Linked DNA regions of Homo sapiens. The protein of the gene in region 1 purifies or fractionates together with the protein of each later gene. This does not show direct contact. Each region holds a gene or a part of one and is shown in the gene's direction. Other genes may lie near its edges. The genes, in order: CENPF, NDE1, GPC6 and NQO2.

The links.
Region 2: the proteins of CENPF (region 1) and NDE1 purify together in Homo sapiens (pull-down; one study listed by IntAct). This does not show direct contact.
Region 3: the proteins of CENPF (region 1) and GPC6 purify together in Homo sapiens (co-immunoprecipitation; one large-scale study listed by IntAct). This does not show direct contact.
Region 4: the proteins of CENPF (region 1) and NQO2 fractionate together in Homo sapiens (co-fractionation; one large-scale study listed by BioGRID). This does not show direct contact.

Annotation. Positions count from the first base shown.
Region 1 is NC_000001.11:214,632,998-214,641,330, forward strand, and holds part of CENPF (centromere protein F), read left to right. Parts: intron 1-4,868; coding exon 4,869-5,004; intron 5,005-6,923; coding exon 6,924-8,333. UniProt on the Homo sapiens protein: Required for kinetochore function and chromosome segregation in mitosis. Required for kinetochore localization of dynein, LIS1, NDE1 and NDEL1.
Region 2 is NC_000016.10:15,721,738-15,730,179, forward strand, and holds the end of NDE1 (nuclear distribution protein nudE homolog 1), read left to right. Parts: intron 1-2,423; coding exon of another isoform or gene 2,424-2,453; coding exon 2,454-2,514; coding exon of another isoform or gene 2,515-2,672; 3' UTR 2,673-2,909; coding exon of another isoform or gene 2,910-3,062; 3' UTR 3,063-3,150; coding exon of another isoform or gene 3,151-3,255; 3' UTR 3,256-4,616; downstream 4,617-8,442. Other genes in the region: MYH11 (myosin-11), read right to left, coding at 2,424-2,672, 2,910-3,062, 3,151-3,255, 5,111-5,317. UniProt on the Homo sapiens protein: Required for centrosome duplication and formation and function of the mitotic spindle. Essential for the development of the cerebral cortex.
Region 3 is NC_000013.11:94,403,205-94,410,751, forward strand, and holds the end of GPC6 (glypican-6 precursor), read left to right. Parts: coding exon 1-13; 3' UTR 14-4,816; downstream 4,817-7,547. UniProt on the Homo sapiens protein: Cell surface proteoglycan that bears heparan sulfate. Putative cell surface coreceptor for growth factors, extracellular matrix proteins, proteases and anti-proteases. Enhances migration and invasion of cancer cells through WNT5A signaling.
Region 4 is NC_000006.12:3,003,008-3,011,340, forward strand, and holds part of NQO2 (ribosyldihydronicotinamide dehydrogenase [quinone]), read left to right. Parts: intron 1-661; exon of another isoform or gene 662-782; intron 783-1,487; exon of another isoform or gene 1,488-1,644; intron 1,645-3,460; 5' UTR 3,461-3,545; coding exon 3,546-3,552; intron 3,553-7,017; coding exon 7,018-7,182; intron 7,183-8,333. UniProt on the Homo sapiens protein: The enzyme apparently serves as a quinone reductase in connection with conjugation reactions of hydroquinones involved in detoxification pathways as well as in biosynthetic processes such as the vitamin K-dependent gamma-carboxylation of glutamate residues in prothrombin synthesis.

The DNA of each region.
Region 1 (8,333 bases):
TTTTCTAACTGTTGGCATTTGTGTCTTTCAATATTAAAAACACGTGGAAAGTCATAGATTTAAATAAACAAAAGTAGTGACAGATAAAGAGTTTCTAGATTAAAAATTCTTATAAAAACATCAAGCAATTGTCAATTATATGACTCTGGCTTCAAAAGTGGACACTGACCTTAATGTTCAGCCTGTGCATGCCCTGGTTGACGGTGTCTTTGGAGACTTTGTTTTGTCCACAAAGTGGTGGATGAGGGTTCCTGAATGGCATGGATGCCCTGATGGGATTTTATGCATACATACTTCAATTTGGCTTCTCTCTGAATTTATTTAGTGGCCTGGATTTTATTTTAAAGGGCTTAATTAAGAACCATTCAGTGACAGTTAATAGACTGAAACAATTTGAAGAGAGCCATAAATCAACATTGTAATTTTAAGAAGAGGAACAACACAAGAATGGTAGAAATTTCTTCTCCATCAAACCCCACAGGAAAGAATGTTTTTCTGTTTATTCTTTAAATGTTCTATGATCACTTTTTAGGCTGTAAAGATTAAGAAAACTTTGTCCATAAAGAACAGTTATTTGTTCAGGTGAGGAAAGTCTAAATGTATTTATCCCCACCGCTTTGCAGAGTGTATCATGATGGTAAAATCAGAACATCTGTCAGTAGCAGACAGGTGATTGTTAAATCAGCTAACCCCAAAGGGGCAATACTGCTGGAGATAGGGGGCTGCAGCTCCAGCCACAAAGTGGAAGAAAACTTCAAATCAGATGATAGTTTCATCAGCAAACGTTTTCAAATGGAAGTGTTTGTTTCAGCAAAACAAATGTTTGCCTTTTGGCCAGTGGGGACCAACCAACAGATGCTTCTGCTAACATTTCCACAGGCAGACTGGCATCGAACTCTTCCCTCTGTGAGCTTCCCTTTCAGCCAGGAACTCTCCCGCGACTCCACTGGCTGCCTGGTGGAAACATTTTGTAAAAGCAATCATCTGGTTAAGAGAGTCCAAACACTTTAAAAACTGCTTGCTTGGCCAAGTCGCAGTAGTGGGCTGGACATTGTCTTGCAGGTGTTTCTGAAGACTTGTTCATCCCCACGAGGTCTGGTCCGTGAGCTGTAGCGCTGTCCTCAGTTAATCCCAGCCTGTACTGAGGTGCATGCATCACATTTCACTGGTATATCATTGATGTCTGTGTCAAATGAGGGCATCTGTGTGAAAGTGTCTAGCACCGGGCCTGGGGATGAAGTTAATATTTGTCTTAATTTATGGTTATGTTTATGTATGTGTCATCTTTTGAGGGTGATAGCAAGATTTCAAAGAGTTTGGCTGGCTCTTGTGTTTTGCATTGGGATTGGGACCAGATAACTGATGAACCCAGTTAGAGTGGTGGTGTAACTTAGTGGGAAAATGGTAGTGGCTTTAGAGTGAGTGAGATCTGAGATTGTGTTGCTTTTCTGCCACCTACCACAATGTGACCTTTAGACAGTGGCTTACCCTTTCTCAGTCTGACTTTCCTCATCTGCATATAGGGACAAATCATTCTCCTGCCTTTTCAAGGCTGTATTCTTGGTTAAGTTAAATATTGTATGTAAAGTGCTTAGCCCAGTGCCCAGCACATAAGTGCTCAGTCAGTTATTGCAGTCCAACACCTGCCCATTGCCTTGGTCTTCATCACTGCCATGACCTTTTGATGTTAGCATTGTTTGCTGTCACCTACAGGCACAGAAAGTGTGATCAGGGGACAGTGCACTTGAGATTTCTCATATTTATAATTTTGCCTGTTCTATTACTGTGTCACTCTGGGTATCTTTCTGTGTCTAATTATATGTAAGCACTAACAAATTTAGGACGCTTATAGGTTTTGGATGCCGAAATAATGTGACAGTTGTACTGAAATTTTCCTTGTCTGTGTTTAGTAAACATGCTGCTCACAATGAGAAATTATCAGTACTGGAAATGTGATTTAATGGCCCAATCAAGGGTAAAGTTAACATTTAGTATCAAAGTGAATGGAGGGTTTAGATAAGCTGCTCGTCCACTATCCAGTGCCAGCCCCATAGCATTGGGGTTAGGCAATAAAATACCATCGTTTGACAGTCAAGATGAGGGAACACTTGCCTGGGGACCTTTCCAAGCATAGGGATCTGTATTACACTAGGTCCTCTAAGGAGCTGGCTCTGGCAAGCAAGAGAGATGAGGAGGAAAGGGAAAAACACATTCTTTGCATCCATCCCTTATCCAAGTATATAGGCTTCGCCCAGCAGGGGACGTATTAAGCTATATTCATGGATGGGATCATGAAATGCCACACAGTAGCTGAAATTTGTTTTGTCTGGCCCTAGGAAATGATGCCTCCCTTGCTGCTCCTAAAGCGAAGTTGATCTGGGTGGAATTGCTTGCTAAGCTCTAATGCTGGCTTGTGGTTATAGGGATTTTTGTTGTGCTTTTCCAGCATAGTACCCAATTTTGCAAATCATGTGAGGATGCAGGAGATGCCTAGGAAAATGTATCTTTGTATGCTTAACTCATTGTTGATAATGAGATACCCAATCAAGTCTTAAGTGGCTGTAGCCTCGTGGAAAACTAATTGCTGATGGATGGCAGCTTGCACATCCATTTTCAGATGTTCATTTTCTAAATTCTGGCCTTTTAAAATTCTTGGGTTGGTCATAGCCATAGCATTATAAGCCTGCTGGGTCCCAGGATTGGCTGAACATTTCTTCGTTAGACACAAATATTTACGGAGCTAATGCCAGAATAGAGAAAGTCATGTTAATCTTTCCATTGAGCTTACTATTCATTTAAATGTCTCCAGTTATGGACAGACATGGATCGAGACCAACAAACACATAAACATAAAATTCCCCATCTTTCCCTGGTGCCCTCTCTCTCTTCTTTTTTCCTTCCTTCCTATTGGGACGCACCTAGTTTTGCACAGTGTCTTTCCAGCTTTCTTGTCAAGCCTCCAGATGCAGGTGTCATTTGATTTGATTAAAAAATTTTTTTTTTAGAGTAAGAAAATATTTTTTCATTTGCAAAATAAAAATGCTAAGTCGACCCAGGTAATTACATTCTAGTTCCTCTTCTATGTTGACCTCATTCAGCTGATCTTAGCATTGATTACAGAGATCTGGCTACTGTTAAATTTTGGGAGGAAATACTACTAATAATGCTACATTGCCCCTGTCAAAGTGCTTTAAGATGTTTGTCCTTTCACATCTGTGATCTCATTTGAGGGGTGATTATTCTGAGTCTGAAGAACAAACCAGTCATTATACGTTCCATAATTTAATGATGCTAATTTAAATCAATAACATTGTTGCACCTTAATGATCGTGCTTTGCAAAGTTTAACACTGACTAGTGTGAATGTTAGCCTATCAATCTTGAGATCGGTTGGAGCTGCCCTTTAGTTCTGATTGATATCTTAATTCGATAGAGTGTCAGTTTAGCAGCAGGGAAGCAGGATCAGGACACGGTAGATGGGAGTATAATAACTACAACAGGTTCTGTCTTATTTTAATGATGAAATGAACGCATATACATGAACGGAGCAGCTGCCAGCAAGTTTTCAAGTACTTTCTACTAGCCAGATTCTCCCTCTTCTTGAATTTGGCTTTGCTACATCGGTACCCATCTGCTGGTAGTAACCAGACTGATAATTGAAGGCAGCCTTCCAACACAGTATTGCCACGGCCATCTGTTTTCTAACAGTGCAGTAGGGTTTTGGAGGATGGGTCTTAATTGTTTCTTTAAGATTCAGAATTTTTCCTCTACTTCACAAAGGGGTAATTTTGGTAGGTTTGAAATGCAGTTTAGAAAAAAGTTAGCTTTATATGATTTTTCCCCGCTTGAGGATGTGAGGTGCTTGGTTCTCTTAGCTTGTAATGATTTATGCCAATTCCCTGTGGTCCAAAGGGTGGCATACAGTATAGGTTGAGATACTTGTTTGTTATGTGAGTCTTATGTGGTTAATAAGCAAAAAAGTTTTTCTTTGGCATGTAAATATTGCTTGCTTTTAAGATTCAGAACATATAGGCCTCCCTAGTAGTAGAATGGAACTACACATGTACCTGTGTTACTTTATTGCATGCTGTTGCGTGGATGTCTCTTCAATCAGATGCCCAAAGAACCTGTTTTCACTGTGAAAGCTCAGAAGCTAGAATTAATTCTTCCTCTGTGTTCCAGCCCTCTGATTTCCCATAGCACACTCAATGTCTCTTTAGTATTTAGCATATCCTATTGTGTATTAAATGATTAGTATCACATCTTCCCCCACTGGAGGATGTCTGCCCCAAGGGCAGAGACTCTGTCTTATTTATATTTGCATTTTTTGTAATGCACATTCCAGCATCTTGAATATTGTTGGTTTTCTTGATAAGCATTTATTGAAGGTAATTTTTCCCACAGAATCATTCCTGTAACAGCAAACCTTAAGATGGTTTTGCAATGAAAAGTAAACATATGTGCTGAGATTTTTTTTTTTTTTTGGTTTATTAACAAATCAAATGTTTGCAAAGGTATATTTGGCCATTCAGGTGTGATAGGAACTTGGAGGTTTTGTCTTGAGGATCTTGTAGATAGGATTTTCCTTTTGAGCTTACTCTTTAATAGGCGTATGAACAATGAGAAAGTTCAATGAAACTTCTTGAAAGAAAAAATTATCTTCAGATTTGGGTTTGATGCTGTTGTCTTCTGTTCATAACATTATTTAAGTAAGAATGTCTGACTTCATTAGGTACTCAAACGGGGAAATTGTGATTCTTTCCCTAGTGAGATACACAAACAGTTCTGCTAGGGACCTTTATTAAGGCAGAAGTCATAACTTACTTGAGCATTCGTTTTGGCTATAACCAATTAAAATGTGTGTTTTAGGAAATGAAGAAGGAAAACAACCTCCTTAAGAGTCACTCTGAGCAAAAGGCCAGAGAAGTCTGCCACCTGGAGGCAGAACTCAAGAACATCAAACAGTGTTTAAATCAGAGCCAGAATTTTGCAGAAGAAATGAAAGGTAAGTAAACTTAGTATTTTAGAGTTACCTTTCTAAGCTGCTATTCCCGTGAGAGGGGATGGATGGCATTAACATATTAGAGAAACTCTTTGGATTTTTTTTCATATATTCCCTCAAAAAGATGTGCGCAGTTGATGTGGAAGAGTTTTCCCTCTTCTAGTTTTTAGTTTCCAGAGTGAGAGTGGGACTTTTTTTAATTGGAACATATTGAGTCCCAAACGCCTGATGCTCAGCACTTTGAAATCAGAAGGGTAAATATTTTCCACACAAAGCTAAATTGTCAGTGCTGTCTCTCACCCCCGAGTGCTATTCTCTGTGTCTCTAGTGTGCTTGTTAGTTACATCCAGACAGCTCATCTCCTGACTCATTACCATTTCCCTTATAATGGAAAAACCCTATATTAAATGCATGTTTTCCAAGCTCCTAATGACCATTGTTTTTTGATGACTTACTTGACTGAATGATTTTATTTTCTTATTTTAAAGCCAAAGAATTCTGCTCTACACATCAAATGAATCCACTCTTGGTTTCATATTTGTATGTTTGTGCCGGATGTCTTCTACATACCCTTTATTTTCTCACCTGGGGTGTTTGCATATCTAGAATTTCTTTGAACTCTGTCCTGTGGAATGTGTGTCACACTTCTCTGTGACTATTTTTTTAAAACCCCAATCTTGGTGTGGTGGCGGGTGCCTGTAGTCCCAGCTACTCTGGAGGCTGAGGCAGGAGAATGGCATGAACCCAGGAGGCGGAGATTGCGCCACTGCACTCCAGCCAGGGCGACAGAGCGAGACTCCATCTCAAAAAAATAAAACAAAACAAAAACCCAATCTTCCCAAGACAGCTTTTAGTTTTTCCACAGCAGCAGATAGAAATGTCAGTTTTCAGCTTTCTTGAAGGGAAACTGTAAGAAAAGGAACAGTTGGGGCATTTTTCAGTGTTGATCACCCAGGTGATTGTTTGAGTTGCTCACAGCAAAGTGGGATGAAGCCCTTGTGGTGCTGTCTACATAAGCCCTTAACTATAAGTAGGTAGATTGAGATTGACAGCTTAGAAGTTCGTACTGCTTTCCACTTGATATGATGTCTGAGATTGTAATACATGTTACCTTTATCATCTACTGTGGAGGTTCTCAACTTTCAATCTCCCCCAACATACTTGAGCAACATGAAGCCTTCTTATCACTGTTTAATGAAAACATCGTGGTTATTCCCAACCAGGAGGGGCCAGTATGTATAGATGAGTCATTAGGCAGAAGACAGGGGGTAACGGAGTTTGAAGAAGCTTCCAAATGACTGTGACATTCATAGACACTGCCACCCTTACTATGAGGGGCTGGGATGGGGGTGATAATGTTCCTCAGGAATATTCACATATAGGCCTTGAGAATTACTGATATATGGCATCATTTACTCTTTTCTACTTAAGTCTAATCCTGTGGATGTTTTAGCTAAAATGGTGGAGTACTTATTTACTTTTCTGAGACATCAGAATTACTCTACAATAAAGTGGGATGTTCCCATTTCAGTGCTGTTCTTGTCCCAGTTTTCTCTCTTGGAATAAATATTTGAAAAGATGGTAAAAATATACACATATGTAAACACATACAAAGAAAAGAAACAGTGCTTAGGAAAATCATCCCTTGGTATTTTATTCAATAACATGTTCTTAAGCTGCTAGAAAGAAGATGAACAAATGTGTTACTCTCCTTAAGATAACCATTTTTCTCATTTTTATATAAGATAATTACCAAGTGATCCACTTTCTAGGAGGTACCCAGGCAATAATGCCAGTTTTTCCAGGGCTTGAGTAGTTGTTAGTTTGTTTGGATTTTGCCAGGGGGCGGGGGGAGGGGTTAGCGTTTCTGTAGAATAAACATTTATTACAAACATTGACGACTTTTATTTATTTTTAAATAGCGAAGAATACCTCTCAGGAAACCATGTTAAGAGATCTTCAAGAAAAAATAAATCAGCAAGAAAACTCCTTGACTTTAGAAAAACTGAAGCTTGCTGTGGCTGATCTGGAAAAGCAGCGAGATTGTTCTCAAGACCTTTTGAAGAAAAGAGAACATCACATTGAACAACTTAATGATAAGTTAAGCAAGACAGAGAAAGAGTCCAAAGCCTTGCTGAGTGCTTTAGAGTTAAAAAAGAAAGAATATGAAGAATTGAAAGAAGAGAAAACTCTGTTTTCTTGTTGGAAAAGTGAAAACGAAAAACTTTTAACTCAGATGGAATCAGAAAAGGAAAACTTGCAGAGTAAAATTAATCACTTGGAAACTTGTCTGAAGACACAGCAAATAAAAAGTCATGAATACAACGAGAGAGTAAGAACGCTGGAGATGGACAGAGAAAACCTAAGTGTCGAGATCAGAAACCTTCACAACGTGTTAGACAGTAAGTCAGTGGAGGTAGAGACCCAGAAACTAGCTTATATGGAGCTACAGCAGAAAGCTGAGTTCTCAGATCAGAAACATCAGAAGGAAATAGAAAATATGTGTTTGAAGACTTCTCAGCTTACTGGGCAAGTTGAAGATCTAGAACACAAGCTTCAGTTACTGTCAAATGAAATAATGGACAAAGACCGGTGTTACCAAGACTTGCATGCCGAATATGAGAGCCTCAGGGATCTGCTAAAATCCAAAGATGCTTCTCTGGTGACAAATGAAGATCATCAGAGAAGTCTTTTGGCTTTTGATCAGCAGCCTGCCATGCATCATTCCTTTGCAAATATAATTGGAGAACAAGGAAGCATGCCTTCAGAGAGGAGTGAATGTCGTTTAGAAGCAGACCAAAGTCCGAAAAATTCTGCCATCCTACAAAATAGAGTTGATTCACTTGAATTTTCATTAGAGTCTCAAAAACAGATGAACTCAGACCTGCAAAAGCAGTGTGAAGAGTTGGTGCAAATCAAAGGAGAAATAGAAGAAAATCTCATGAAAGCAGAACAGATGCATCAAAGTTTTGTGGCTGAAACAAGTCAGCGCATTAGTAAGTTACAGGAAGACACTTCTGCTCACCAGAATGTTGTTGCTGAAACCTTAAGTGCCCTTGAGAACAAGGAAAAAGAGCTGCAACTTTTAAATGATAAGGTAGAAACTGAGCAGGCAGAGATTCAAGAATTAAAAAAGAGCAACCATCTACTTGAAGACTCTCTAAAGGAGCTACAACTTTTATCCGAAACCCTAAGCTTGGAGAAGAAAGAAATGAGTTCCATCATTTCTCTAAATAAAAGGGAAATTGAAGAGCTGACCCAAGAGAATGGGACTCTTAAGGAAATTAATGCATCCTTAAATCAAGAGAAGATGAACTTAATCCAGAAAAGTG
Region 2 (8,442 bases), on another chromosome or scaffold:
TGCAGGTGTAAGCAGTGTAGGTTAGCTATGGGAGTAATTTATATAATCATCTGGCGTTCTGACTTCTACATCAACCTTATGCAGAGCCAGAAATCAGCTGACTTGTTTTTTTTTGTTGGTTTGTGTGTTTGTTTGTTTTAGATGGAGTCTCACTTTGTCACCCAGGCTGGAGTGCAATGGTGCAGTCTTGGTTCACTGCAACCTCCGCCTCGTGGGTTCAAGCGATTCTCCTGCCTCAGCCTCCAGAGTAGTTGGGATTACAGGTGCCCACCACCACACCTGGCTAATTTTTGTATTTTAAGTAGAGATGTGGTTTTGCCATGTTGACCAGGCTGGTCTCGAACTCCTGACCCTCAAGTGAGCCTCCTGCCTCGGCCTCCCAAAGCACGGAGATTACAGGTGTGAGCCACCACACCTGGCCAAATCCTTGTGCTTCGAAACCACTAGACCTGCCCACGTTGCTTAGAGCACACTGAGGTCAAAGTGAGATTTAAAGCTGCCAGAAGCTAGTTATTAGTTTGTTTCATGGCCACAAGTAGCTATTAATATCTTACAAAAGTATCCTAAGAGCCTCAGTAGGGAAATGGTAAGCATGGGTGGCCCTGCACACATATCTCTCTGCTTGGAGAAGCAACTCAGAGAACATTCCATGCTCACGTTAATCTCATCTTCAGAGAGAACAGAGCAGATTATAAATTGTAACATCCAAAAGCCAAACTTCCAGTATTCAGCAAAGACAGGGACCTCTAAATGGCACAGTCAACACAAAAATCCCACACTATGTGTGCCACTGCACTACACTCTATGTGACAGGAAAATAAAAGCAACCTCAGGCCTTCAACCAGATAACGAAGCATTGAAGATGAGCTGACAGCCCAGAGGAGAGGTAGCTGATGGGAAGAGGAGAAACTGGGATGTTATCTAGAATCCTGACACTAGGAGGTCAGTCAGGGAGGGGTAGGGAACCTGCAGGCATCTGGCATTTAGCCTCACTGTACAATCCTCATTTTATTTATTTTTGAGACAGGGTTTTCACTCCATCACTCAGGCTGGGGTGTAGTGGCGCAATCTTGGCTCACTGCAACCTCCACCCCACCCTGGGTTCAAGCGATTCTCCTGCCTCAGCTTCCAGAGTAGCAGGGATTACAGGCGTGCGCCACCACGCCCGGCTAATTTTGGTATTTTTAGTAGAGACAAAGTTGCACGATGTTGGCCAGGCTGGTCTCAAACCCCTGACCTCAAGTGATCCACCTGCCTCAGCCTCCCAAAGTGCTAGGATTACAGGCGTGAGCCACCGTGCCTGGCCTCTCAAACTGATTTTTAGAATAACCCTGAGTCACTTGTAAACTAAATCATATTTACTAAATAATAATGTATCTTAAAAGTTGGTATTTAGGGGTTTGGGTCATACAGGGGTCTCCATTTATCGTACAATTAAGATTTGTGAATCTCATCACATGTAAGTTTTACCCCAAAAGAAGCAAAATTGTGTTTAAAAATAAACTCTAATTAATATGCAATGTTGAGGTGTGGAAGGGGAAATGTACTGACATCTGTAATTTGCTCTGAAATGTACCCAAGAGATAAGGCATGATAGATAGAATTAGTCTTTATAAATAAATATGTGGGCCGGGCATAGTGGCTCATACCTATAATCCCAGCACTTTGGGAGGCCAAGGCAGGCAGATCATGTGAGGCCAGGAGTTGGAGACCAGCCTGGACAACATGGCAAAACCCCATCTCTACTAAAAATACAAAAATTAGCCAGACATAGTGGTGTGCTCCTATAATCCCGGCTACATGAAAGGCTGAAGCAGGAGAATCGCTTGAACCCAGTGGTGGAGGTTGCGGGGAGCTGAGATCACACCACTGCACTCCAGCCTGGGTGACAGAGCTAGATCCTGTCTCAAAATAAGTATCTGATAAAGTTCATATAATACAGTGTCAATGACTGAATCCAGGTGGTGGCCTTAAAGGTGTTCACCGTACAATTCTGTCAACTTTGCTGTGTACTTGGAATTTTACAGAATGAAATCTTAGGGAAGAGTGGTATTAAAAGTATAGAAACTGAATTACTTGGAATACTACTCAATAGGTATTCAGTAAATACATTTAGTGAATAAATAAGCACCTCATTCCTTCTTCAGGCTAGAAACTAAGGCATCACCATGTGTGCAGGTGACCCTCATGGTGCTGGTACCCAGAAAAGTCACAGTCATCAAGGCTTCTTTGCCATCCTTACTGTGACCTGGTAGCGTTAATGCTCCATGGTCGCCCAAGACAAGATAAGACAGCCTCCCATGGCTCCCCACAGAGTGGAGAGGGGATGCAGGCACAGGCCAGAGCCACGCGTCATACTCTGCAGAGCTGATTCCCCAACCCAGCGTCCATGGCCAGAGTGGGGGACACCCCACGCCCTCTACCTGATCAAATTTCCTCTGCTTCTTTTCCAGGTTGGACACGAGTTGCCGCTGGTTGTCCAAATCAACAACCAGGTCGTCCAGCTCCTGCTGAAGCCTGTTCTTGGTCTTTTCCAGTTTATCATAAGCGGCCGCCTTCTCCTCGTACTGCTGGGTGAGGTTCTCGATCTCCTTCTGGAACCTCTTCTTCCCCTCTTCCAGAGCTTCCACGGTGCTGGCAAAGTCCTGCAGCTTCTTCTTCGAGTCGGAGAGCTACAAGGACAGCGTCCAGGGTAGGGTGAGAGGGGGACCATGAGTGGCCCCTGTCCCTGGCCCCACAGACTCTGAGAAGCGAAGACCATGTCTCCTCGTTGGAGAAACCCAATAGCAGGGGAAGCTGGGGGGTCAAGCACCATCGCACCAACACTCCACCGCGATCTGCCTGCGGGGGATCTCAGCGCAGAGAAGTTGAGAGGACCCATGAAGGAAGCAAGGACACGGGGCAGGCACCTGGATGTTGAGAGTGGAGATGTGGCGCTCCAGGTTCTGCTTGGCCTCCATCTCCTCGTCCAGCTGGTCTTGCAGGCTGTTCCGCTCCTCCTCCAGCTGGCGCAGCTTCGTAGACACGTTGAGCTTCTGCCGGGTTTCTTCTTGAAGCAGCTCCTGCAAAAGGGATGCAAAGAGGTCCCAGGGACCTGCCCCGAGGAAGGCCACCCCCCAGGTCCCCTGGATGATGTGGCAGGACACTCACCTGGGTGTCCTGGAGCTGGGAACTGAGGGACGCCACGTCCTTGGCCAGCTTAATGGCCTTCCCCTCGGCCTCGTTAAGCATCCCTGTGACGCTCTCAACTTCATTCTAAGGGTGCCAAGAGACTGGTTAGTCAAAGCCTCTAGAAGGGGATCCTCGTTGAAAGGAGCCCTTTTTACTCAAAACACATGGGCTAGTACTTGAGGTGTTCACTGATTGAGAAAATACCCGTGAGGTATGGGACTCTGATAAAAAAAAAAAAAAACACACACACACACAAAAAAAACAGAATCTGTGGCTTGAAGGGAACTCCGTCACCTATGAGTTGGGACCCTGGCCCTAGACTCTGTGGTTCTAAGAACTTATTTGAGCCCCAATGGTATTGACTGGGACCTGATCCCACTAAATGGATCCTAGATCCCTGCCAAGGTTGGTAGAGACAAAGCAGCAGGTCTGAGAGTCCAGACGAGGTGCTCTGGCTGGTCCACTCTCTAAGGCTGGAGAAGGGAGACCAGGATGGTACTTGAACGTCCCAGGGATGCTGTCCCATCCCTTCCTTCCTCACTCCTACTCTTTGACCCTGATGGCCAAAGCCAGAGACGCAGGCCCTAAAGGTAAAAACGTCCTCTCTGTATTCTCTGGCTTTTACTCCCTAGTGTCTCTGCATAAGTCCCTTTGAGGCTGTTAGCCTACCCCTCCATCTCTTCCATTGACAAGGAGGATATGAATGATCTTGACACTGCTTATATGAGGGCGGCAAAAGCCCTGCTCTCAACTGCATGTGAGAAAAAAACATCTCACTTAATTCTTCCCTCGCCCCTTGGTCCCTGGCTGTGGACATGTTAAACATTTGTGAAAACTTTGGCCACGTCCCCATGAGTGGCAAGGCAGGGTAAATGGCTATGCCAAGTGAAAGAAGACCAAAGACAAAAAGACCATGTCATTCAGCAGCTTAAAACCCCTCAACAGCTTCACATTGCCCAGAGTAAGGATCAACATACATGTAATAGGTTCTCAAAAGCCCTACATCATCTGGGTACAAGCTCCCCCTCCAACCCCACTCTGTACTATCTCCCCCTACCCCCAACCCCAGCTGGGCACTCCAGCTCTACTGGCTGTATGTCTCTCTCCTAATTTTTCTACTTACCACAGGGCCTTTGCACACGCTGTTCCCTCTGCCTGGTAGACTTATCCATGCTCCTTAGGGAAGCCTTTCGTGGCTCCTCCTCCCCCAGGTTAGGCCCCCTGGTTATTTACACTTGGGCATCATGTGCCTTCCCTTTGCTGCATCATTTGACATTCATTTGTGTGATTATTCATGTCTTTCCCTTCCCTTCCCTTCCCCTTACTCGGCTGGAGTCCTACTGGGGCAGCGACAGTGTCTCTTCTTCCTTGCTGTTGGATCTCAGGATTAAGCACAGTGCCTGGCATACAGCAGGTGCTCAATAAATACTTATCAAATTGGAAAAGGAAGGGTTTTTTTTCTTTTTTTTTTTTTTTCCTGAGACAGAGTTTTGCCCTTTTAGCCCAGGCTGGAGTACAATGGTGCGGTCTCCGCACACTGCAACCTCTGCCTCCTGGGTTCAAGCTATTCTCCTGCCTCAGCCTCCCGAGTAGATGGGACTACAGGTGCCCACGACCACGCCTGGCTAATTTTTGTATTTTTAGTAGAGACTTTTCACCATGTTGGCCAGACTGGTCTCAAACCCCTGACCTCAGGTGATCCACCCACCTCTGTCTCCCAAAGTGCTGGGATTACAGGCATGAGCCACCGTGCCTGGCCAGAAGGTTTTTTTAATATTTAATTGAACAGGGAGATCATCGCCTCTCCTCCAGGAACGCAACTAGAGGAAAGGACTTGCCTTGCAGCAAGAGAGACCTCAGCGAGCCGGGAAGAGGCTCCTCCCCACAGAACTGGGCACCACCCAGCACTGCCCACCACACCACCGCGCCACCTCCTCACCTGCAGCTTGTGGACTTTGTCATTGAGCTCCGCCCGGGCCCGCTCCCCATCGCTGCACTTGGACTGCAGCTCCTGCACCTGCGCCTCCAGCTTCTTCTTCTTATGTTCCACCTCCTGCTTGGCCTGGCCCAGGACCCGCAGCTCCCCGGCCAGGTCTGCGTTCTCTTTCTCCAGCGTCTGCTTATTCTTGTCTAGGTTCGCCTTGGCCTGGCGAAGGAAGCAGAGGGGAGGGATAACAGGGAGGCTGTGGCCGGGAGAACGTTTCAGGCCCTGCCCTTTCCTCCCTCAGAGAGGTCCAGGAAGGCACACAACAGGGGGCACACAATCACCAGTAAGAGATTTGGGGTTTTTTTGTTGTTATTTTTTTTTTGAGATGGAGTCTTAACTCTGTTACCCAGGCTGGAGTGCCGTGGCACAATCTTGGCTCACTGCAACCTCCGCCTCCCAGGTTCAAACTATTCTCCTGCCTCAGCTGCCCAAGTAGCTGGGATTACAGGCGCCCGCCACCATGCCCGACTAATTTTTGTATTTTTAGTAGAGACGAGGTTTCACCATGTTAGCCAGGCTGCTCTCGAACTCCTGACCTCAAGTGATCCACCCATCTTGGCCTCCCTAAGTGCTGGGATTACAGGCGTGAGCTGCCGCACCCAGCTGATATTTTGGATTCTATTTTCCTAAAGCTCATGGGTTGCAATCTGGAATCCCACAAGCGGTATCCAACCTGCTGACATGTCCCCTTTGACCCTTTCACTACTTTTAAAAAAATGAGTTGCCGACATTTTAATAAATGTCACATAAAAATCTGGATTCCCAGCTTCTTTTTCAAAAAACTTTAATGTTTGAAGGCATGCCATGGCAGCTCATACTTGTCATCCCCAGCACTTTGGGAAGCAGGCAGAAGGATCGCTTAAGGCCAGGAGTACAAGACCAGCCTGGGCAATGTAGTGAGACCCCCATCTCTACTAAAATAAAACATTAGCTGGGTGTGGGGGGCACACACCAGCAATCCCAGCTACTCAGGAGGCGGATGGCAGGCTTGCTTGAGCCCAGGAATTGGAGGCTGCAGTGAGCTATGATCACACCACTGCACTCCAGCCTGGGCAACAAAGTGAGACCCTGTTTCAGAAATAAGTAGCTTTGGGAGGCCAAGGCAGGTGGATCACTTGAGGTGAGGAGTTCGAGACCAGCCTGGCCAACATGGCGAAACTGCATCTCTACTAAAAATGGAAAAATTAGCCGGGCATGGTGGCGCACGCCTGTAGTCCCAGCTACTGGGGTGGCTAAGGCACAAGTATTGCTTGAACCTGGGAGGTGGAGGTTGCAGTGAACCAAGATCATGCCACTGCATTCCAGCCTGGGTAACAGAGTGAGACTCCATCTCAATCAATCAATCAATAACTAACATTCTATGTGGTGACTGTGGTGGTGGTAGTTACACAATACACATTTGTTAAAATTAATGGAGCAGTAAAATGGATAAATTTTACTACATATGCCTCAGTAATCCTAAACTTAAAAACAAAAACAAAAAACCAACAACAACGAAAGATCTGGAAACAGAGGGTCTTGCTTTCCTTCAAGGCAACAATCTGCCACATCTAAGTAGCGGCTGGCTCTGCAGGTGGGGCAGTCACCTTTCACCGCCCCCGTCCTTCACAGGTGTCGTGTGATTGACACTGCTACTTCTGTCCTAGTTAAGGGAAACTTATTTTATGGAACCAGCTCCTGTAGGCATGTGAGTTGCCCTACAGGAAAAAAAAAGTGTGTTGGGGCCAGGCGCGGTGGCTCAGGCCTAGAATCCCAGCACTTTGGGAGGCCTATGCAGGCAGGTCACTTGAGGTCAGGAGTTTGAGACCAGCCTGGCCAACATGGTGAAACCCCGTCTCTACTAAAAATATAAAAATTAGCCGGGCATGGTGGCAGTCACCTGTAATCCCAGCTGCTGAGGAGGCTGAAGCAGGAGAATTGCCTGAACCCAGGAGGCGGGGGTTGCAGTGAGCCGAGATCCCGCCAGTGCACTCCAGCCTGGGCGACAGAGTGAGACTTTGTCTCAAAAAAAAAAGCGTGTTGGGCAAAAGTAGGACGCGGTGAGGGGCTTCTTTCCAGGTTGTAGAGAAGGGGAAAGAGAAGCGCAAGTATCCCGAGAGGACGAGACCCACCACTCAGTCTTCCCATAGTCCCTGGGAGGTGCTGGACGTTGACCGGTCAGCCCTGGATGCCCGTCCTCCCTCCAAGACATGACTAAGAGCTGCCAGACCTCAGATGGGGACAGGGAGTCTCTTGGTGGTAACAAAGCAGTGAAGCGGGGACCCTAGGGGACATGGGCTCCCAGAAACCTTAGCCCAGCCTAAGACCCCAGAACTGGGGCCAAACCGCACGAGGGCCTGGGGAGCCCAGGTAGGAGCTGATGTTAAACGTTTCCCCCACAAGCAGATGGAACCAGGTCTCTACATCAGAATTCAAGTTGTTAGAGGCAAAGGCCTCTGTTTCCCTGCACCTGAGATGGGCAGAGGTTTGCACCTCTACCTGCTTTGTGCGGGTCAGTAATGGACATGCCGTCTGCTGGTGGTCTTAATAACTGCGTCTTCCCAAAGAGGCCTGGCTGGGAATGGGCTTGGCTTCTAGCTCCTGTTCACGTCTAATGAACCCCAAGCATGGGGAGGGTCAGTGATTCTGTCTGGGGCCTCACTCTTCCAACCATAATTTTTTTTTTTTTTTTTTGAAACTGAGTCTCACTCTGTTGCCCAGGCTGGGGTGCAGTGGCACAATCTTGGCTCACTGCAACCTTTACCTCCTGGGTTCAAGTGATTTTCATGTCTCAGCCTCCCAAGTAGCTGGGATTACAGGCGACCGCCACCACGTCCAGCTAATTTTTGTATTTTTAGTAGAGACGGGGTTTTGCCATGTTGGCCAGACTGGTCTCAAACTCCTGACCTCAGGTGATCTGCCTGCCTCGGGCTCCCAAAGTGCTGGGATTACAGGCGTGAGCCACTGCACCCAGCCTAATTTTATGTATTTTTAGTAGAGATGGGGTTTCACTATGTTGGTCAGGCTAGTCTTGAACTCCTGACTTGGTGATCCGCCTATCTCAGCCTCCCAAAGTGCTGGGATTATAAGCATGAGCCACCGCGCCCGGCCTTTGGGGGCAGTTTCTAATGGTTTAGCACTATCCCTTTGGTGCTGCCCTCATGAGATCTGGTTGTTTAAAAGTGTCTGGCAGCTCCCCATTCTCTCTCTTCTGCCTGCTCTGGTCATGTAAAACATGCCTGCCTCCCCGTTGCCTTCCACCATGATGGTAAGTTTCCTGAGGCCTCCCCAGAAGCAGAAGCTGC
Region 3 (7,547 bases), on another chromosome or scaffold:
ACTGTGCAGATAATCTTGGGTTTTTGGTCAGATGAAACTGCATTTTAGCTATCTGAATGGCCAACTCACTTCTTTTCTTACACTCTTGGACAATGGACCATGCCACAAAAACTTACCGTTTTCTATGAGAAGAGAGCAGTAATGCAATCTGCCTCCCTTTTTGTTTTCCCAAAGAGTACCGGGTGCCAGACTGAACTGCTTCCTCTTTCCTTCAGCTATCTGTGGGGACCTTGTTTATTCTAGAGAGAATTCTTACTCAAATTTTTCGTACCAGGAGATTTTCTTACCTTCATTTGCTTTTATGCTGCAGAAGTAAAGGAATCTCACGTTGTGAGGGTTTTTTTTTTCTCATTTAAAATAAAAAAGGAAGAAAGAAAATAATTTTCCTTGTAAAATCGGGCCAAACCCCAAGACAGCTACATTTTCAACAAAAAAGCAAACAGAGAAAAATAAATGAACTTTAACACTGTAAGTTCAGCATTGACAGCCAACTTCCAGTGTAAGCTTTTTTGTGACAAATCCGGGTTTAAAAATGCTTATGGGGAGAAAGCTTAAAGTTTGTTCTAAATGTAGTGAAAATGCACTGTTGTCTTGGAGGTATCATCTTGCACTCTAACCAAACAACACCAAATTAATCTGGAGGTACTGATACTAAATTTGGAATCCCGTCTTTAATATGAGAACACAAATTACTACAACTCAGTACCTCTGTCTTACTCTGCCCAATTTCAATTTAGTAATGGCACCATTATTCTTAATTCCCTTAATGTCTGTCCGCTGTATCCAATTGGCACAGATTTTCCCCTTCATCTTCAATTACTAGTAGCTACCCCCATCAATTCACCTTCCTCAAGAGTCTCAATTGAAAATAATCTTTGATGATACAATCTCTGCTTTTGCCACAGGTTTGACATTAACTAGACGTTTCTGCCCCTGTGCTCATTACCCTCCCAAAACAATAGTTTTTTTAATGAATTGAAACACAATTAGATCCATTCCTGAGTTTTCATTTTTAACTATTTACTTTGTGTCAGTTGGTTTCTGCATCACAAGGGCATTCTCTTACAAAACAACTCACAACAGAAAAAAAAAGTCAAGACAAAAAATATATATATATAGTATTGACATGGAGATTTCTTTCACTTTTTTAGTCTTAGTATGATCATCTATTTTTATATCTATGTATATATAAATCACAGATTTTAACTTCTTAATTCCAAGCTCAGGGTTGACACACCTTTGTAAGAAAATGTTTTGTCAACCAGCTCTTCTTGTTTTGTGCTGCTCAAAGAAGGGATTCCTCAGTGATCGGTGAGCACCAAGAATCAAGAAAGAGAACTTTTTATGTATCTAACTGTCCATTTATTAAAAATTTGCCAGGGCACACCCTTCTGCATGAGTGTGCTTCAGCCTGGGTGCTCCAGACTACACCAAACTCATGGGATGAGCCATTGGTGTGCAGGGCTTTACCGGTGATGGAAACTGTATGTGTAAAGAATGTTATTCATGAAAAACCATTGCTTTCATGTAAAACACCTTCGGCCTAGGATTCCTGCCTGGCACTTGGATACATTACCTAACTCAATAGGCCAGTTTAGAGCCACAGCCTAACCTGTTCACCAAGTAGGCCAAAGCCAGGCCTTTCGCTCCCCCTGACAGAGAGAAGCAAAATAAACCCAACTGGGGGCTTTATGAATACAGTTGGCTATCCATATGTTTCTTAGTTTTTATGATGCATCTGGAGTAGGGAAAAGTAATGTTTCAAGACACCATAGTAGGCCAGTTACATTTTAATTAACTCATCGACAGTATTGACACGTAAATGGTATTTTTCAATCTGTTCTCATCAAAATTAAAATTAGTTATTGATTTAGTCATCACATTTAAGTAGAACACATGTGGCACAATAGTATTAAGTATATTTGAGCACTTTTGCAAGACAGAAAGTATTTACAAGCATCTATTGCTACTTTATGCCTAATGAAATATAAAATGTAGGATGATGAGAGACTTTGTGGCATTCTTTCATTTAAACCTTTATGAAATTAACCATCTAGTTCATCATTACATACTCCTAGAAAACCATCCATTTCACTGCCCACATTTTGGCTTCCTACCACAAATTCCACATAAGACTTCTCTATGAAGGACCAGTCATTTACATTGCTCATTTCATTCTGTGTTCAGAAGTCAGTATTGTCTTTCTCCAATAATTAAGGTGCAATACAAATTAAATCAACCTTGATTTTCCAGACTATTTGAATAATAACTTGCTTTTATGGCTTTAAACTCCAGGTCTTTCCTTTTTAAAATATTTCTGCATTCTCTTTTATGAACTAGATCAGGATGCCTTGTTTTTCCTGTGCTTTCACCCCCAAAAGGTTTTGTGCATGTGTATGAATACACATAATATTAGTGAATGTGAACCCATGTTCTATACGCACTAAACACACAGTTAATATATAAACGCCTGCTTCATTTGTTTCAACACCTTCATTATCAATATGATTCATATTGATGAGATATAGTGATGCATAATGAGCCAGGCAGAGAGCTGAAATGATATCAGTTAATGATGTCACAGTGTTAGCACCCTGCATGGATGTGGTCAAAATATCATTCAAGTTGTACTTCCTAGTTTTTATCATCATACTACTATGTCATATGATTTTCAGACTAATTTAACATGAGAAATGTTTTGGCCCTAAAGGATTTCACTTAACCTAGTTACCCTATTTCAGTAAGTATTTTGGAATTCAACCCTCGAATTATTTTTTCTCATTTCAGCATAGTGATAGGGGATGCAATGAGGCTTCATTATTTTTTATGACCTGCCCCTCATTTGCTCTGATGTTCCCTAAATTCTGTAATCATATCATAACTTTTGTTATGAATAGAGAGGAATGGGCTCACTGAAACCTGACACTAGAAATTGGTGGGTGATGCTCATAACTGCAAACACTTAGCTTATTGAAGTGCCTCTATTTACATGTTCTTTAGTTATAATATGTATTTTTCTAACAGAAATACACGTCTGTAATTGGTATATATTATACTTTGTATGTGTCACAACAAAAGCTAAACAGAGGCTAAAGTCTTTAGCAGAGAAGAATGAATTACAAATTTACCAATAAGAGCTCTGTTTATGGTTCTGTATTGAAGGACAACCATGACAACCTTCTGTCATTTTCACGAAGGCCAAGTTGGTACTTTGATTATAGCCATCGTAGAACATTAGCACTAGAAATCTGTCTCCCTTACAATGACTTACCTAGCTAGCATCAAGTAACTTGTATCACCTGCTTTAAATGTAAGGGATAGAAAATACTATTTTGTCTACACTGAAAAACATTATTATTCATTGATAAGTAGTAATAATTATAAAAGTAACATTCTTTAAAGCAAACACATTGAAAATATTATTACAGGCAGAACCCTGATTTTTAATTTATATTCCCTGCTGCAGACATTAGCCTTCTTTAATTCTTTTGCCATTACATACATGTTTCGGCTACAGACTGAACACGAACTAAAGTCCCTAAGGAGGAAAAAACCTTAACATATTCCTGAGATGTGATTCTTTTATTACTTCTTTTTGCAAAGCTAATTATCAAATGATTTGATTAAACCTAGACGCATTAGGAAATGCAAGTTTTACCTAAAACTTGCAGAAATTTAAACACATTTCCATTTACTTACTAACGAACAGACCTGATTTTTATTTAAAAACACAATTTAGCTTTGCCAACAGAAGAGTAAAGGAAACCATAACTTATAAATTTGTAATGTGTTCCTCCTTGTTGGAGACATTAGCCAGTGTTTAGTTTTAGACCAACTTATACAAAGAGAGTATTGATTTGTACACATTCTGGAGACTTGCTATATCATGGTTTGCTATGGCACAGACTCAGCTTAGCATGGGGACATTTTGAACTTCATTCAAAGTTGAGTAGTTACTGGAACCTTTGACATTGCCTTGTAATGAGGTACTTCCAAAAAAAGACCCCTAACAATGGCATAATAGTGAGGTCTCTCTGTGCATATACATAATATATATGCAGGATAAATGTGTGCACCAATCAAATCTAAAATTTTATGTGACTGTCAAATGAATATTATTTGGGTTAAGATTTTTCATTTCTGATTTGGATAGAAAATTGCTATTAATCTTGTATTAAAATAGTTTTTAAAAATCTACCAGTGCCCTTTCTGCATTTTCTTAATTATTGTCATAGTCTAAATTTCAGAGCCATGGAATTTTTTGTGTTTGAGACATTTTTAGAAGCTTCAATATTAAAAAACAACAACAAACCTCGTATATTAAAACAGTGCCACTCTCCTAAGTACACTCAGCATCTGAAATCAGGAACTATTTGAACTTTAGAACATTTAGAGCTTCCCAAATGTGTATGGAAAATACTGTAGCGCTGTTCTTTTGTACTGATTTCTTCTCAGAGGATAAATTTAGTGACTTGAAAACTGATGTCAATACTTTATAAATGAGGTCAGAAAATAAGATCAAATGTGAAAAGACTAATAATTTCCCAATTTAGCCAATTGCATTGATTTTTATACTTCTGAAATGTTTCCATCCTCTCAGGCATGCTAAATATTGTATAACCTGCTAAAGATTTATTTCACAAATGCTTATTGAACTCTTATTCTCTATAAACCCTGCTCTAGGGGATTTATCACTGGCTGTGAAAAACCACCAGTTGAAAATTATTCATTCCTTAATGCAGCTAATCATAATTATTACAGATAAATAATGTATTTCAAGAATGATCTTATAAATAAAGGAACCCATACAAACAAAGGTACCAAGAATACAGCATTTAACTGTAAGAAATACTGTGATTTAGCTCACATTATTACTATTTTGGTTTTTATTGAGAAAAGTGACTATTACAAAACAATTAAGGAATGTTAGAATAATTCCATCTATAAGATCAAAATATAACAAATTTTATTTGGAAGCAACAGAAACCAATTTATTGGGCAGGAAAAACATCCAAGTGTTTTTCATCCAAATGAAACCAGACACTTTTATCAGGTAACAACAATATTTATTTTAATTTGCTCTTTGGATAAGTGGACAGGGATATAGTTAAAGTATATGCACAAATGTGGTAACAGAATTACATTGATTTAAAAAATCCAACTTGTAAAACAGTGGCAATGAGGGATAAAGTGTTTTTGTATCTTGAGAGCTAGAAACATGCAGGCACAAATTTAAGTCTGTTTAAATAGACGTTGACAACTGACTTAGTGCAGACACATTTCCATTCCATAGACATATTTCTTTGCTGGTGTAAACATGTGGCCAAACATATTTTGCTGGCTCATAAATAGGGCATGCAACAAAGCCAGGAGGAATTAGATGCCTGCCTTTATAGCCTGCTTAAGGAGCGCAAGCTCATGTATACCTTGAAGCATAAAGCAAAACGAGAAATTGGGAAAATGGGACTTTTACCCTGTGAATGCTCAAGTTTGGAGAGAAGGTGAAAGAAGGATTACAAACTGGATTCAAGAGAGCAGAAGAATATTTACCTTGACTAAAGCCACCTTCCCTTTAATAAGAACAAGCATCTGTGGATTTTTTTAATTAAAACAAAATTACTGACCTCAGCAATTATTCACTTTTTCAAAAGATATATAATGAGAAATCATCCCATGCCAAACAGTTCTGGGTGCAAGAGCAAGACACTAAAATTTCCGCCCTCTCCCTTTAGTGAGGAAGAGACAGACAACATGTAAGCCAATAAATGAACACGAAGATTCAGAAAGTGAAAGGCGCCATGAAGGAATGAAACAGGAAATGGGATAGCGACCAGGAAGGAAACTCTCCTTTAGGTTAGTGGTCCAGGAGAGCCTGGGGTGATGGAGCTGTGATGAATGACAGGGAAAGAGACAACCATGAGCAGAGCCGGGGATAGAAATTTCCAAGCAGAGAAAGTGCAAATGCAGAGATCTCAGTTCAGGAATGACCTGTACTTCAGCGTGACTGCAGTGAGGTGCTGAGCGGTGAGATGACTGAAGAGCTGACTTTGGGAATTATCCACTTTTTTTCAAAAGATAGATAATGAGAAATTATCGCATGCCAAACATGGTCCTGGGTGCAAGAGCAAGACGCTAAAATTGGGGCAGCCATGTTAAGCCTAATGGCCAAAGCTATGGTCTTATCCCCTGGTGAAGCCAGAACCCTCGTGGGACACAGCAGCCCTGCTGGTCGCACTCACTAACATTTTTTTTTTGCGGGGGGTGGGTGGGGCAGACGGAGTCTCGTTCTGCTGGAGTCTCTCGCTCTGTCGCCCAGGCTGGAGTGCAGTGGCGCCATCTTGGCTCACTGCAACCTCCGTCTCTGGGGTTCAAGCGATTCTCCTGCCTCTCAGCCTCCCGAATAGCTGGGATTACGGGCGCCTGCCACCACGCCCGGCTAATTTTTTGTATTTTTAGTAGAGACGGAGTTTCACCATGTTGGCCAGGCTGGTCTCGAATTCCTGTCGTCGTGATCCGCCCGCCTCAACCTCCCAAAGTGCTGGGATTACAGGCGTGAGCCACCATGCCCAGCCATATTTCATCTTTATAGCATCTCTATGATATAAACATAATAATGCCCATTTTATACTGAATAAAATGAGACACAGTGAAATTAATAACTCACCCAATCACACTAAGAAGGTCATGATATGAACCCTGATCTGTAAGAACTGGACAGAAAAATGAAGGTATTAATATATAAGTTTGTTTTTGTTGTTACAAATTCAATTATCCAAGCGTGCTCTGAGTATTGACAACAATTGTGCAAATTGGCAACAAGTGTGAAAACAGGAATCCACAGATTTCTATCAGCATAAAGGATATATGTGAAATTTTAATTCTGAGATGGAGTTGCTTCGTGTCTTAAATTTTTTTCAAAATTAAAATCCTAAGTAAATAAATGACTGGGGACTCTGGGTTCTTATTATGTAGTTTTGAACTTGCAGCCACCTTGAAACAAAGCATGATCCCTAAGACAGAAACACGCATCAAGCCTGCTTCCCCTTGTTTGTCAACTCGGCTTAGACACCATATTCACAGGAAGCAAATTAGATATCAAATTCACAGGGCTTAGCCCAACTCCCAGTGACTCTCCCGTATATTAGCCGTCTGTAATTTAACTCTTCTGATGGTCAAGTGGACCTAAAATATAAATCAAAACAGCTCAACAATTACCCAACTCAGATAACTAGTTTGGCAGCTTTGAAAACTACACTGACTGTTAAAACATCTTATAAAGTACCGTAACATTGAACATCCAGCCCAATCAAAGTCCTAGCGAGGGCTTTCTTAGTTAAAATAAAGACTGCAGCATAGGGACCCCCTGTGCCTTTCATATTCCTGGAGTTAAAGCTACTTTCATTGTTGGTTTCTACCTCATGCTTGCTTAAAAGGCGTGGGTCATTGCCATCCTTACCTGAGAGAATCAGGGGTATTGAGCACAGGTTGTGTCCTTCTTAAAAAGGTTCTCTAGGCCGGGTGCGGTGGCTCACACCTGTAATCACAGC
Region 4 (8,333 bases), on another chromosome or scaffold:
GCCTCTCAAAGTGCTGGGCCTTCTGCTTCCCTGGGCTTTGCCAGGCCTCCCTATGCATTGTGATAGCCAAAGTTTGCTTTCTACAAAGTCACCTCCAGGCAGTGACTGTCCACCAGGGCACTGTAGAGCCTCCCAGCTAATGATGAAGTCACTCACTCTCCTCTCTTTTTCCTTTAAGATAATCCCTTTCCAGACCCGCCATTTTGGCTCACCCTGTAAGTTACAGCCCCACTTCTCACTGCCAAGTGTGGGTGTCACTGCTGGCTCAGGGAGCATGGATCCTGTAAACTTGCCTCATCGGGAGGCTTTGAGGAGTGACCCCCAGGAACTAGACAAGTAACTTGTTCTTCACAATCACTGCCCTCCCAAGAACATCCAGGATTTCAGCCTCAGTGCTAAGACAACCATGTCTCTCCCTGACACATGCTCGCTGCTGAGAATTCTAGGAAAAGCAGAGGGCTGTGCAGGCGCCCCTGCCCCTAGGCTAGGAGAGCTGGCAAATGCCTGGAGACCCAAAGGCCTCATCCTCAGGGCGGCCAACTCTTCTGTTTTAGTGATATACAGACTATCTTTTATTGTGATTTATAGTGCAACTTACCGGTTCAAACAATACTACCTGTATTCATAAACTTTCTTTTTCCTTTCCTTCCTCACTGCCCAGCTTTAGGTTCATTCTTGTAAGTGTTGCTGGTGTCAGAATAGGAACCTCCCTGCGCTTTGAAGGGATGAATGTGACCTCTCCCACATTCTCCGGTGCTGTGATGTACCTTAAACACAGCAAGGTACTTGGACACAAAGCCTGTGCCTGGAGCACTTTCAGACAGACAGTGCATGGCCCTCGCTACAGACTCAGTGCCATTGTAGATGTTTCTGCATGGAAAATACATAAACACAAATATCTGCAGTTGCCAATCCACCACCATCTTGCAGCCCCAAGAGAGCCCCGGGAATCCAGGTTCCTTTGGTATTTCTGCTCCCTGCCCTTGGTGCATAGCCTCCATCCCCAGGACGACAAGAAGGCTGACTGAGCCCTAACATCATCCCACAGTCCAGCTGGGAAGAGAGCCAGCGACAAAGCCAGAGGGAGCTAGCTCCCACACCTCCCAGCCCCAGCTGAGTTCGCTTCTTGAGGGTATTTCTTGGAAGCCCCGCCTGTGACTTCTGCTGACACCTCACTGGCCATCTCAACTGCAAGGCAGCCTAGGAAATGTAGTGCTTACCTGTACACGTGGATTCCTGGAATCAATTCAGGGTCTGTCCTTGGGGAACCAGAGTGGGGATATTCAGTCACTAAAGATGCAGGTTCCCAGCTGTCCAGTGAAGTCAAGCGAATGGGGAAGGATTTGAAGTCACCTTTGGGTGTTTGGAGTGATCAGAGCTGTCTGCCCTCTTGGGGAGTGACAGTGCCCCACTCTGTTAAGTCCCATGCCTGCCCCCAACTCAGCTTCAGCCACAATGATGTAGCCTCTTTTCCTTTCCATCCACAGGGCACCTGGCCTGGGTGGAGCCCACTCCTCAGCACCCACCTCACTTCTTGCAGTATTCTGCAGACCCCAGCCCTGTGCCTGTGCTCCTGGACAGCTGGAGATAAGGAGTGGGCCCTGGAAGATGCTCATTCAGGCCCTGCTCAAGATTCCAGTCCTGGTGGGGATAAGCACCACTTTTGTGTGTCTCTGTGCTTTTTGTTTTGCTGTAAAGACACACTGATAGGTTCACGTTGTCGTTTGGACACAACATGCGCGATGCGTGTCTTCACACTAAGCCCTAGTCACACTCTCTGCATTGTTTTTTTATCCCATTTTTTCCTACTGTGGTACAGAACATCTCACATAAAATTGACCATTTTAACCACTTTTTTTGTTTGTTTGTTTTTTGTGTTTTTGGACAGAGTCTCGCTCTGTCTCAGCCTCCCGAGTAGCTGGGATTACAGGTGCACACCACCACGCCCGGCTAATTTTTGTATTTTTAGTAGAGACGGAGTTTCGCCATGTTGGCCAGGCTGGTCTCGGACTCCTGACCTCAGGTAATCCACCTGCCTCAGCCTCCCAAAGTGCTGGGATTACAGGTGTGAGCCACGGTGCCTGACCTCATTTTAGCCACTTTTAAGGGTAGAATTTTCTGGCTGTTTTCATTCATGTACTGATAGACACTTGGGTTGCTTCCATGTTTTAGCTGTTGTGGAAAATGCTGCTTTGAACATGGGTGGGCAAGTGGTTTTCAAGACCCTGCTTTCAGTTTTTTGGGTTCAGAGTAACGAATGGAATTGCTGAGTCATATGTTAATTCTCATTTTTCTAATTGTAATTTTTGGGGGCACAGCACCTCTCCAGCAGCGGCAGCACTCGACCTTTCCCCAGCGGTGCACGGGGTTCCAACTTCTCCGCATCCTCACCTACGTGTGTTTTGTTTTTTGGTAGTAGTAGCCATTCTAATGCGTGTGATATGGGATCTCATTGTGGTTTTGATTTGCATTTCCCTAATGATTAGTGATGCTAAGCATCTTTTCATGGCTTACTGACCATTCATACATCTTTGGAGAAAAGCCTACACAAGCCTTCTGCCCATTTTTGCATTGAGTTGTTTGCTTTGTTGTTGTTAAGTTTTATCTGAGCTGTTTTTTTATGGTAGGGAGAGTGGGTTTGTTGGAGTCTCCTTGTATCTCCCAGAAGGAAGCCAGAATTTCAGAGATGGCCAGGAGGGGGTGAGGCCAAAGGCTCCCCTGGGGAGAACTCACGTTTTTCCAGAGCCCCATTGTGTGCCAGCCACCGCACATAGCAACTGTCTCTCTCTCACTCTTCTGGGCCATGCTGTGACTTTGTTGATGAGGAGGTTGAGGCACAGAGGGGTGGAGGGATGTGCTGCAGGGCCCACAGCTACAATGGGCAGAGCTGGAAATTGCACCAAGTCTGTCTGATGCGGGGGTCTCCTCTGCTCCTCTGGCCTCCGCTGCATCCCTGGAGAATCTCTGAGACTTCTGGTTAGAGCCTGGGTCTAAGCCAACTCCCATTATTTTCAAGTGAGGGGAAGGGCCGACAACTGCCAGTGCTGGCCCACCAGAGTCTGGCACCAGCCGAGGAGTGCACGCACCCATTGGTGGTGTGGCGGTTCACTGATCCCCCAGCCTTCTGCTCGATCTACGGGGAAAACTGGGGAAGGCAGGAAGGCCAAGGAGGCTCAACTCCTGCTTCCTACCGTGGCTCATTTCCTGGGTCCTTTGCTGTATGACTGTCTGGATGGAAGGTTCAGAGTCCTCTCAAAAAAGGAAAAAAGTATGGGTTTTGACATCCTGCGTGGCTTGTCCTCTGAGGCCTAAATCTCCAGAAGATTCCTGGCCTCTCTTGAGAGGTCTTTCTCTGATGTGTTTGCGTGTCTGTCAGGAAGCAGCAGTGATGCCTAGATGTGGTACATTCGACCTCACCTATGCCTCTCCCCACCCCCTCTGGGTTCGTTTTGTCTTCCAGATTGCTGGACTCGCTGAAGAGAGACTACGCAGGAAAGCCCCAGCCACCCATCAAATCAGAGAGAAGGAATCCACCTTCTTACGCTATGGCAGGTAATGATTCACTATTGTGGAGTAAGACTTTTTTTTTTTTGAGATGGGATTTTGTTGTATTGCCCAGGCTGGTCTCAAACTCCTGAGCTCAAGTGACCCTCCCACATTGACCTTCCAGGTGGGAGTTAGACTCTTAATCAGAAATTGGATACATTGTTGTAAAAAATCCAAGCCACGTGGAAGTGTATAAACTATCTGGAATTATCTTGTTTTCTATGTTCTCACTTGTTTCATTGTTCCTTTCGACTCCCTCCAGAATTTAGGTTCCTCAAAAGTGGGGCCCTGCCTATCCTGTCTTTGCTGTGCCTCCAGGCCCTGAAATTCTCCCTGGGCTGTAGCAGGGGCTCAAGTGAATGAACCCCAGGAGGCATCTTGGGTAAAAATTCAGTACGATTCTATCTTTGCTTTTGCAACTGCTTATCATGCACATATACATGAACATGCAATCTCTCAACTTTTTAATTTCACCTAACGATATAACATGGAGAGCCTTTCGTGTTAGAACGCACAGGTTCACCTTACTCTATACATTATGGTGTAGATTCGGATTTTCGCCCTTGGCACCACTGACATTCTGGGCCAGATAATCCTATGTTTTGGGGGGTCATCCTGTGCACCCTGTTTAGCACCTAGCACCATCCCTGGCCTCTGCCCACCAGATGCCAGTAGCACCCCTCCCCCACCGGCTGTGACAAACCAAAATGTCTCCAGGCATTGAGAAACGTCCCCTAGCAGGCACAACACTGCCCCAGTTGAGAACCATTGGTGTAGGTATTTCATTTGCATCTATTCTCCTGTTAAGCCCCTAAGTATAGTTCCTTTATTGAAACAAGAGTCTGAGAAAGTAAAATTAAAATGTTAACCATGAATCTAACTTATGGAATTCAACCTTTGTAGCCAGCTCAATGCCCTGAAACCCATTGCTTCAAACTGATACGTGTATCTTTTCCTTAAAGTGTCATTATGAAAAATTTAAATCAAGAGTTTAACATCTTCTTAAAGGTGACCAGGGTAAATTTAATTAAGCAAATCACCAGGCTGCCTCCCAGACGAAGTCAGTATATAAGCCTGGAGACTCTTTCCAATGAGGAAAATACTGCTTCAGAAGCCCCTGGTGTGAACGATACTGCCAGTGCCAGGAGGGCCTGACTCTTCCTAGAGTCCTCTTTGTTATCAGCATCACCACTGAAAGATGGGCTCCATGTGGCCCTGCCTTCCCATGAGACCAGCGGGTCTGATTCCTCATGTTTTGTTTAAGTGTCAGATTTGATGGACTGGGGGAGATGGAAGCAGAACTGTGCCACACTGAAAGGTGCCTGTAGCTGATATCTGCAAATGTAGGGTTAGCATGGAAGACTAATTCCAGCAGTTCTTTATTTTGGTGTTAGGGAGCTGGTCTAAACCTTCTTACAGAGGATAACCAAATTAGGTTGGGCTTTTAAAAGATTTAGTGGTGGTATTTTTGAGGAGATATAATTTGACCCATTGTATTGTGATGTTGAGCTATGAATAACTGGATTTTTAAAATGCCCATTGCTTTAAAACTGCCACCTATTAGAAAGTTTGGTATTTCTGGGGCCAGGTGCTGTGGCTCATACCAGTAATCCCAGCACTCTGGGAGGCCAAGGTGGGCAGATCACCTGAGGTCGGGAGTTCGAGACCAGCTTGACCAACATGGAGAAACCCGGTCTTAACTAAAAATACAAAAAATTATCCGGGCGTGGTGGCGCATGCCTGTAATCCCAGCTACTCAGGAGGCTGAGGTAGGAGAATTGCTTGAACCCGGGAGGCAGAGGTTGCAGTGAGCTGGGATCGTTGCTCCAGCCTGGGCAACAAGAGCGAAACTCTGTTTCAAAAAAAAAAAAAAAGAAAAAGAAAAAAGGAAAGAAAAGAAAGTTTGGTGTTTCTGGCCAAGTGCGGTGGCTCATGCCTGTAATCCCAGCACTTTGGGAGGCCAAGGCGGGTGGATCACTTGAGGCCAGGAGTTCAAGACCAGCCTGGCCAACATGGCAAAATCCCATCTGTACTAAAAATACAAAAAATTAGCTGGGCGTAGTGGCACACATCTATCGGGGGAAATTCAGCCAGATATTGGGCGAAATTCACCCCCAATATTTCACGTAGGTTCTTTTCTATATTTCCTAAGTGTCGGCCGGTCTGAGAAATAAACGGACAGAGTACAAAAGAGAGAAATTTTAAAGCTGGGTGTCCAGGGGAGACATCACATGTCGGCAGGTTCCGTGATGCCCCCAAGCCGTAAAACCAGCAAGTTTTTATTAGTGATTTTCCAAAGGGGAGGGAGTGTACAAATAGAGTGTGGGTCACAGAGATCACATGCTTCACAAGGTAATAGAATATCACAAAGCAAATGGAGGCAGGGCGAGATCACAGGACCACGGGACGGGGCGAAATTAAAATTGCTAATGAAGTTTTGGGCACCATTGTCATTGAGAACATCTTATCAGGAGCCAGGGTTTGAGAGCAGACAACCGATCTGACCAAAATTTATTAGGCAGGAATTTCCTTGTCTTAATAAGCCTGGGAGCGCTACGGGAGACTGGGGCTTATTTCATCCCTACAGCTGGACCATAAAAGACAGCTGCCGCCCCGAAGCGGCCATTTCAGAGGCCCACCCTCAGGGACGCATTCTCTTTCTCAGGGATGTTCCTTGCTGAGAAAAAGAATTCAGCGATATTTCTCCCATTTGCTTTTGAAAGAAGAGAAATATGTCTCTGTTCCGCCTGGCTCACCGGCAGTGAGAGTTTAAGGTTATCTCTCTTGTTCCCTGAACATTGCTGTTATCCTGTTCTTTTTTCAAGGTGCCCAGATTTCATATTGTTCAAACACACATGCTCTGCAAACAATTTGTGCAGTTAACACAATCATCACAGGGTCCTGAGGCAATATACATCCTCCTCAGCTTATGAAGATGATGGGATTAAGAGATTAAAGTAAAGACAAGCATAGGAAATCACATGGGTATTGATTGGGGAAGTGATAACTGTCCATGAAATCTTCACAATTTACGTTCAGAGATTGCAGTAAAGACAGGCATAAGAAATTACAAAAGTATTAATTTGGGGAACTAATAAATGTCCACGAAATCTTCACAATTTATATTCTTCTGCCATGGCCTCAGCCAGTTGCTCCATTCGGGGTCCCTGACTTCCCACGAAACACACCTGTAGTCCCAGCTAGTCAGGAGACTGAGGCATGAGAATCACTTGAACCTGGGAGGCAGAGGTTGCAGTGAGCTGAGATCATGCCACTGCATTCCAGCCTGGGTGACAGAGTGAGACTGTCTAAAAAGAAGAGAGAGAAAGAGACAGAAAGAAAAGAAAATTTGATATTTCTTAGCTTCAATTACTATGATGCACCTGAACATTCAATTTTCATCTTAGTCTTCATTGAATTTAACAGAGAGAGGTTGTTCTTCAAGAGGAACTGTTTCTTATCCTGATTTAGGTAAGAAAGTACTCATTGTCTATGCACACCAGGAACCCAAGTCTTTCAACGGATCCTTGAAGAATGTGGCTGTAGATGAACTGAGCAGGCAGGGCTGCACCGTCACAGTGTCTGATTTGTATGCCATGAACCTTGAGCCGAGGGCCACAGACAAAGATATCACTGGTGAGTCATGGGATAAATGCTCTATTTATAAAAACCATCTTTATGTTTTTTACTTTAAAAAATGTTGACTTCCAGCTGCAAAATGGCATTATAGAAGCAAGCTAGCTTCACTTTCCAAAAACAAATAGATAGCACTGGGATTATCACCAGCAGTATCCCAGAAGTCAAATATGAAGATGAAATAGTTCCCAAGACCACACATAAGTGAAACAACTCCAAGCAGACGGTAAGAGATTGGACTATCATATCCACGACACCCCTCCCCACAAACTACCCAGCACCAGCTGTGTGGGAAATTTCCTCCCAAGTCACAGGTTCTACACTGGAAAAGAGATCAAGGGGGACAATCAGCTTCTCAATTTTCTGGGGTTCCCAGAAACAGGCAGGAAGGAGACCTGTTCCTGCCTCAACCCACAGGAAGCATCAGGAGTGCCTAAAGGGAGAAATATCCCTGACAACAGCCAGAGACAAAGGAGGGAGATGGGAATATTGTCCCCAGCCCTGGAAACTCTGATCTGTAACTTAGCCAAAGGAGATGCCAAACCAGAGTGGCTGTTCAGCAGCACCACACTGTAGGAGGTACATTCTGCAGGTTTCCTGGGCATGAGCTGCTAGCCAGCCTTCCCACACTACCATGCTATCCCCTTTGGAACCTCTCATATTCAGGACTGGCACACTCTGAACAGTAGGTTACTAGAGCTGAGGCAAACGTGGGCATAAACCACCATCTAGTGCCAAAAAGCAGGTGGTGGCTTAGTAGAGGAAAAAAAAAAAATTTAATAAGAAAGTTGCAAAGACTTTCTAAGCAAATATATGTAATAAAAATGAAAACAAGTCAGACATAGAAGACTGAAATAAATAGATGTCATCCACAAGAAACAACAGTAAACAGGGAACCATGACCTCTCCACACAGACAAAGCAAGGAACCAGTGACTGAACCTAACGAGACGGCACTGTTTGGACTCTCTGACCAAGAATTCAGAATAGCACTTTTAAGGAAATGTGGTAATCCTCAAGATCACACAGAAAAGCAGTTCAGAAATTTATCAGTTAAATTTTACAAAGAGATTGAAATAATTTTTAAAAAATCAAACAGAAATCTTGGAACTAGAAATACATTTGCTGAAAAATTCATTAGAGGCTCTCAAC